Linked DNA regions of Homo sapiens. The protein of the gene in region 2 purifies or fractionates together with the protein of the main gene of each other region. This does not show direct contact. Each region holds a gene or a part of one and is shown on either strand. Other genes may lie near its edges.

Region 1 (3,500 bases), on a different chromosome or scaffold from region 2:
CCGGGAGGGAGGTGGGGGGGTCAGCCCCCCGCCCGGCCAGCCGCCCCGTCCGGGAGGTGAGGGGCACCTCTGCCCGGCCACCACCCCGTCTGGGAGGTGTGCCCAGCAGCTCATTGAGAACGGGCCATGATGACAATGGCGGTTTTGTGGAATAGAAGGGGGGGAAAGGTGGGGAAAAGATTGAGAAATCGGATGGTTGCCGTCTCTGTGTAGAAAGAAGTAGACATGGGAGACTTTTCATTTTGTTCTGTACTAAGAAAAATTCTTCTGCCTTGGGATCCTGTTGATCTGTGACCTTACCCCCAACCCTGTGCTCTCTGAAACATGTGCTGTGTCCACTCAGGGTTAAATGGATTAAGGGCGGTGCAAGATGTGCTTTGTTAAACAGATGCTTGAAGGCAGCATGCTCCTTAAGAGTCATCACCACTCCCTAATCTCAAGTACCCAGGGACACAAACACTGCGGAAGGCCGCAGGGTCCTCTGCCTAGGAAAACCAGAGACCTTTGTTCACTTGTTTATCTGCTGACCTTCCCTCCACTATTGTCCTATGACCCTGCCAAATCCCCCTGTGCGAGAAACACCCAAGAATGATCAATAAAAAAAAAAAAAGTTGAAAAAAAAAAAAAGTTAAAATTTTAACTATTGAGTATACAATTCAGTGGTATTAAGCAAATTCACAATATTGTACACCCATCACCACTATCTATTTCCAGAACTCTTCATCATCCTAGACAGAAATGCCATGCTAACTTCCTGTTCCCTCTCCCCTTAGCCCCAGGAAACACTATTCTACTTAATGTCTCTATGAATTTGCTTATATTAGATACCTCATGTAAGTAAGATCATTTATTTGTCCTTTTGCATTTGCTCATTTCACTTTGCATAATATTTTCAAGGTTCATGGTAAAGCATGTATCAATCTCATTCTCATTTATAGTTGAATAATATTCTATGGTATGTATACACCACATTTTGTTTATCCATGTATCTGTTAATAGACATTTGGGTTTCTGCCTTTTTGCTATTGTGAATAATGCTGCTGCGAACATTGGTAATAGTAACTCTTTTCTTTTTTTTTTTTTTTTTTTGAGACAGGGTCTCACTCTGTTGCCCAGGCTGTAGTGCAGTGATGTGATCACATCTCACTGCAGGCTCAACCCTCTGAGACTGAATCAATACTCGCAGCTCAGCCTCCTGAGTAGCTGGGACTACAGGTGTGCACCACCACACCCGTCTAATTTTTGTATTTTTTGTAGAGATGGTGTTTTGCCATGTTGCCCAGGCTGGTCTTGAACTCCTGGGCTCAAGCAATCCATCCACAAACGTTGGCCTCCCAAGGTGCTGAAATGACAGGTGTGAGCCACCACACCCAGCCAACTGTCTTAAGGAAAAAGAGGCACAGAGAAACTAAAGTTTGTAAAGTCATACAACCTGTGCTCTTGCCAACAGAAATAAGAATACAAATGAGAAGTCTGAGCATATCAACTGTCAAAACCTGTCACATATGTCTCTACTCCAAGCAAGACACCAGGCAGAGTCTTTGTCATGACTGTACTGGCCACCAGAGTTCACCTCACCTGCCAGCCCAGCTGAACTGGGATGGCTGCCTCTAAGGCTGTGTTGAGGCCATAGCTGGGCTCAAGGAGAAACAGTACCGGAGTCACACTGAAACTTTAGGCAGCATATACCTCCATCAATATGATCAATGAGGCAGTACACGAGAGCACATAGGAAACTGCCAAGGACTTTACCAATGTCCGATGATGATGACTGTCATCTCCTCAGAACACCAGATTCAAAAACCATAAGAGGCAGCTCCAAGTCCTCTATCCCCACATTTAATATTACAATGAAAATACTCTACTCAGGGATAAGCTCTGAGAGCCACTAAGAAAATCTGAGGATTAAGGAAATGGAGAGTTTGTAATTACTAAGATATAACAAACTGCATTTCTAGAACCCCATTTTTTCAGTTAATGAAAATAAAGCTGCTAGCTACAGTTTTAAATAATTTATGTGTTGCAATCATACTCAAGGACACAAAACTATGAGAGCTGGTATAAGAATAAACCACTGCATATTATTATACAGGTGAATGTCCCCTAAAGACTGGTAACTGGCTACCGGCTTGCACTCAGCAAAGCACTGCTTCTGCAACTCAACCTAAAGAAAACTGACTGTACCTCTGCATTCACTGCCAAAATCTGGAGGTTCAGAACTTACAAAATAAAGCCCTTCATCAACTGAGCCCTCCTGGACTTCTCCAATCTAAGCCTGGGTTTGCCTCAAAGCACGCTTCCTGTACCACACTCCTAAGGGTCTGAAATTCATGTTACTTCCTGAAGTAAAATGCCCTTCCCTCTCTTCATTGCTAATTAACAGTCATCCCTTCTTTTTGGACCAAACTGAAGGCTCACACCCCTAAGACTCTCCAGAGGTAGGCCCCCAATACTGGTCCCTATTTCCTTGATCACCCCCCAAGGATGTCATGTACACCTGTGACCTACAGATCACGTTCTTATGTGTATGCGTGTGTTTAGATTTCCCAAGGCAGAACTGCAACTCCCATATCTCTCATGAATACACACTGAGAGCCTCTTAGGTGTTTTAAGTGTTAATCTGGATGTGGCTATTCCCATTCCTGGACAGAAGAGTGGTCTTCTTCCATCCAAGCAGGTCACCACCTTTAAAGCACAGATGCCCACAGAGTGGGCTTAGCCAAACGAACCAAATTAACTCCAGAAATTAGGAAGGTATCAACCCAAGGCCCGGGGGCCCTTACATTAGTGGTCCTCAAAGCCAGCCATACACTAGAATCCCCTAGGGGTTGTTTTTAAATGTACAGCAATGCCCAGGCGCCACCACCAGACTCTGTGACTCAGTTGTTCTGGGGCGAGATACTGTGTTTATATAAATCTAGGTATAAATTATACCTTCACGTAAGTATAGATATGGAGACAGATCTTTGAAGTTTTTTCAGGTGATTCTAATGTGTGTCCGGGGTTGAGAAGGACTGCATTATAGCAACTGAAATAATACAGAAGCTACACTATCTTCTGACAAATCAGTAATACGGATAAATAACTAAAAGACCTGCACAGTAAGTTGGTGAAGCCAATCTGAGCAATGGTATTAATTATATCACTATGAAGAAAAGGTGTCAGTGTTCAAGAAATGGATTATTATGCTTAAAATGGGCTAACCAAGTGCTTAGCAAAGAAAGGGTAGCAGTCATATACCAGAATTTGCATGAACACTCCAATTCATAGACAAGAACCCAGTACTAGCATTTTCAACAAGATCAGTCCAGAAACCTTGAAAAGCACTTCTGCTCTTTCCCACAGCAGAAACTCAAGAGAAATTTCTTACTTCGTTTAACCACCACTGTAAAAGTTATCAAAAATTCATAATCTGATACAGCTGACAGAGCCTAGCTCCTCTAATCAAATATTCAAATTGAGACAAGGTTTTGGCAAAGCTAAGTATGCCTACTGGGCAT
Region 2 (3,500 bases):
GGGCAATACCTGCCCTCCCCACCCCGGGGACGCCCACCTCTGGGTTGCAGGTTTTCGCAGTAAATGGGCAGGGGCTGTCATCAAAGATCTTATAGACCGCTTCGTTGGAAGTGGACAGGAAGCTGGAGGTTCGTTAAGGAAGCAGAGGTCTAGGACTGAGGACCCCAGGGACTTTTGTGGGAAAGAATCCATTCTCCCACCAGTTTCCAGCCCTATCCCTAAGCTGCAGGTCACTTCTAGGCAAAGTTGGTCTTTAGCCATCCCTGGGGTCAGAGATCAGTGTCTGGGGGCAGATACACAGCAGTGCTGGCCCAGTAGGCGATGCAGAGGCACAGCAAGAAGAAGGTGACCAGTGGGTAGAGCAAGGAGCACATGACGTATCCCACAGCCCTAGGGAAGAGCAGAGACACAGGCGTCAGGGCAAAAGACACAACTCTAGGGACAGCTCCATCCTGGCCCCTGGCACCCTGGCCCCCCACCTGCTGGCTTCTTTGATGAGTGCAATCGCGATGAGAATTCTCTTCCGGAGAAAGATGAGCAGCAAGATGATAATGACTTCAAGGATACTCAGAATGATCACTGCAAAGGGCAAAGGCTGAGCCGGCTGGGCTCCCCACTCCCTCCAAGGCCTCATGTGGGGGCAGGAATGGGAGACTGTGACTCACTAAAGGCCAACCAGGTCTGCCGTAAGTGCAGGTACACCCGGAAATCCGTCTGAAAGCCGAGGTCCACCAAAGAGACATCAGAGCCGGCCTCACCACGCAGTCGGGAGTACTCCATGTAGCAGTGAAATATTCCTGCATGGGGGAACCACAAGCTCAGTCCAGCAGTGCCTCCTGCAACTTTGCAAAGCAGCTACAACTGCCCCCATTTAACAGAAGCAAACATCGAGGCTTCTGCCTCAGGGACTTTACACTTGCAGTTCCCACCGCCCGGTGCATTCTCTCCCCATGGCTGGATCCCACACATCCTTAGGTCTCTGCTCAAGTGTCACCTTCAGAAGAGAACTTCCAGAACCCTTTCCCCCTACTTGGAATCATAATCATATGCTGCCATGGTCTAAGTTCTCTCTCTTTTTTTTTTTTTTTGAGACGGAGTTTCACTCTTGTTGCCCAGGCTGGAGTTCAATGGCACAATCTCGGCTCACCGCAACCTCCACTTCACGGGTTCAAGCGATTCTCCTGCCTCAGCTTCCCGAGCAGCTGGGATTACAGGCATGCGCCACCATGCCCGGCTAATTTTGTATTTTTAATAGAGATGGGGTTGGCCGGGCGCGGTGGCTCACGCCTGTAATCCCAGCACTTTGGGAGGCCAAGACGGGTGGATCACGAGGTCAGGAGTTCGAGACCAGCCTGACCAACATGGTGAAACCCCGTGTCTACTAAAAATACAAAAAAAAAAAAAAAAAAAAAAAATTAGCTGGGCGTGGTGGTGGGCGCCAGTAATCTCAGCTACTCAGGAGACTGAGGTAGGAGAATTGCTTGAACCCGGGAGGCGGAGGTTGCAGTGAGCTGAGATCGCGCCACTGCACTCCAGCCTGGGCGACAGTGAGAGACTCTGTCTCAAAAAAAAAAAAAAATAGAGATGGGGTTTCTACATGTTGGTCAGGCTGGTCTCGAACTCCCAACCTCAGGTGATCCGCCCACCTCTGTCTCCCAAATTGCTGGGATTACAGGCGTGCGCCACCGCACCCAGCTAGAAACCACTATTAATATGAATATTTTACTATGAGTGTCCTCAAATTGGATTGCCAAGCATTTTTCTTCCAGGAAAGTTCAAGGAATAATCAAAATATGGGCCAGGCACAGTGGCTTGCGCCTGTAATCCCAACACTTAGGGAGGCCAAGGCGGGAGGACTGCTCAAGCTCAGGAGTTCAAGACTAGCCTGGGCCACATAGGGAGAACCTGTCTCTACAAAAATATTAAAAATTTAGCCAGGCATGATGGTGCTTGCCTGTGGTTTCAGCTACTTGGGAGGCCAAGACGGGAGGATCACTTGAGCCCAGGAGGTCAAGGCTGCAGTGAGCTGTGATTGTGCCACTGAACTCCAGCCTGGGTGACAGAGTGAGACTCTGTCTCAAAAAACAAATCAAGGCTGGGCGCGGTGGCTCACGTCTGTAATCCCAGCACTTTGGGAGGTCGAGGCAGGCAGATCACGAGGAAGTCGAGACCAGCCTGGCCAATATGGTAAAACCCCATCTCTACTAAAAATACAAAAAAAATTAGCCGGGCATGGTGGTGTGCGCCTGTAATCCCAGATACTCGGGAGGCGAGGTAGGAAAATTGCTTGAACCCGGGAGGCAGAGATTGCAGTGAGCCGAGACTGCACCACTGCACGCCAGCCTGGGTGACAAAGCAAGACTCCGTCTCAACAACAACAACAAAACAACAACTCAAAAACAACAAAAATCCAAAATATGAAGCACTGTTTTGTTGAGCACGATATTGTGCCTCTGGATTCCACAGGCCTGAACTAAACAGGCCCCTACCCATATTTTATCTGCTCATTACCTCCTTGTCATTTAGTTTGCCAACTAGAAATATGAATTACCCTCATTTTATAGAGAAATAAATTGAAGCAGTCCGGGCGCGGTGGCTCCTGCCTGTAATCCTAGCACTTTGGGAGGCTGAAGCGGGCAGATCTCCTGAGGCCAGGAGGTCGAGACCAGCCTGACCAACATGGAGAAACCCCATCTCTACTAAAAATACGAAATCAGCCGGGCATGGAGGTGCATGCCTGTAATCCCAGCTACTTGGGAGGCTGAGGCAGGAGAATAGCTTGGACCCAGGAGGCGGAGGTTGCAGTGAGCCAAGATCGCGCCATGGCACTCCAGCCTGGGTGACAAGAACAGAACTCCGTCTCAAAAAAAAAAAAGAAAGAAATTGAAGCACAGTTAGGTTGAGGCACTTGCCCAAAGAATTGGCAAAGCCAGGATTTGAACCTCTGCTATTCTGATACCAGAGTATGCATCCTTAACTACGGTGCTGAGACATTTTTTCTTTTTTTTTTTTTTTTGAGATGGAGTTTCGCTCTTGTTGCCCAGGCTGGAGTGCAATGGCGTGATTTCGGCTCACCACAACCTCCGCCTCCCAGGTTCAAGCGATTCTCCTGCCTCAGCCTCCTGAGTAGCTGGGATTACAGGCATGCACCTCCATGCCCGGCTGATTTTGTATTTTTAGTAGAGACGGGGTTTCTCCATGTTGGTCAGGCTGGTCTTGAACTCCTGACCTCGGGTGATCTGCCTGCCTCGGCCTCCCAAAGTGCTGGGATTACAGGCGTGAGCCACCACGCCCGGCCTGACTTTTTTTTGTTTTCCTGATGGGCCATTTCCACGGGAAAGGGCAGGGCAGTGTGCGGATTCAGGAAAGAGAAGCCACAGGGAGGGGGTGACGCACCGTAGCCCAGCACCAGAATCACCATGATGATCATCACCCAGACCATAATACCAGCCAGGAAGCGAAGCAGGATGATGAACAGGAGGCTCATCGCCATGGCAATG

The links.
Region 1: the proteins of SLC44A2 (region 2) and UBAC2 purify together in Homo sapiens (affinity purification with mass spectrometry; one large-scale study listed by BioGRID and IntAct). This does not show direct contact.

Annotation. Positions count from the first base shown.
Region 1 is NC_000013.11:99,238,854-99,242,353, reverse strand, and holds part of UBAC2 (ubiquitin-associated domain-containing protein 2 isoform 1 precursor), read right to left. Parts: intron 1-3,500. UniProt on the Homo sapiens protein: Restricts trafficking of FAF2 from the endoplasmic reticulum to lipid droplets.
Region 2 is NC_000019.10:10,632,053-10,635,552, reverse strand, and holds part of SLC44A2 (choline transporter-like protein 2), read right to left. Parts: coding exon 3,397-3,500; intron 798-3,396; coding exon 666-797; intron 580-665; coding exon 480-579; intron 391-479; coding exon 298-390; intron 123-297; coding exon 38-122; intron 1-37.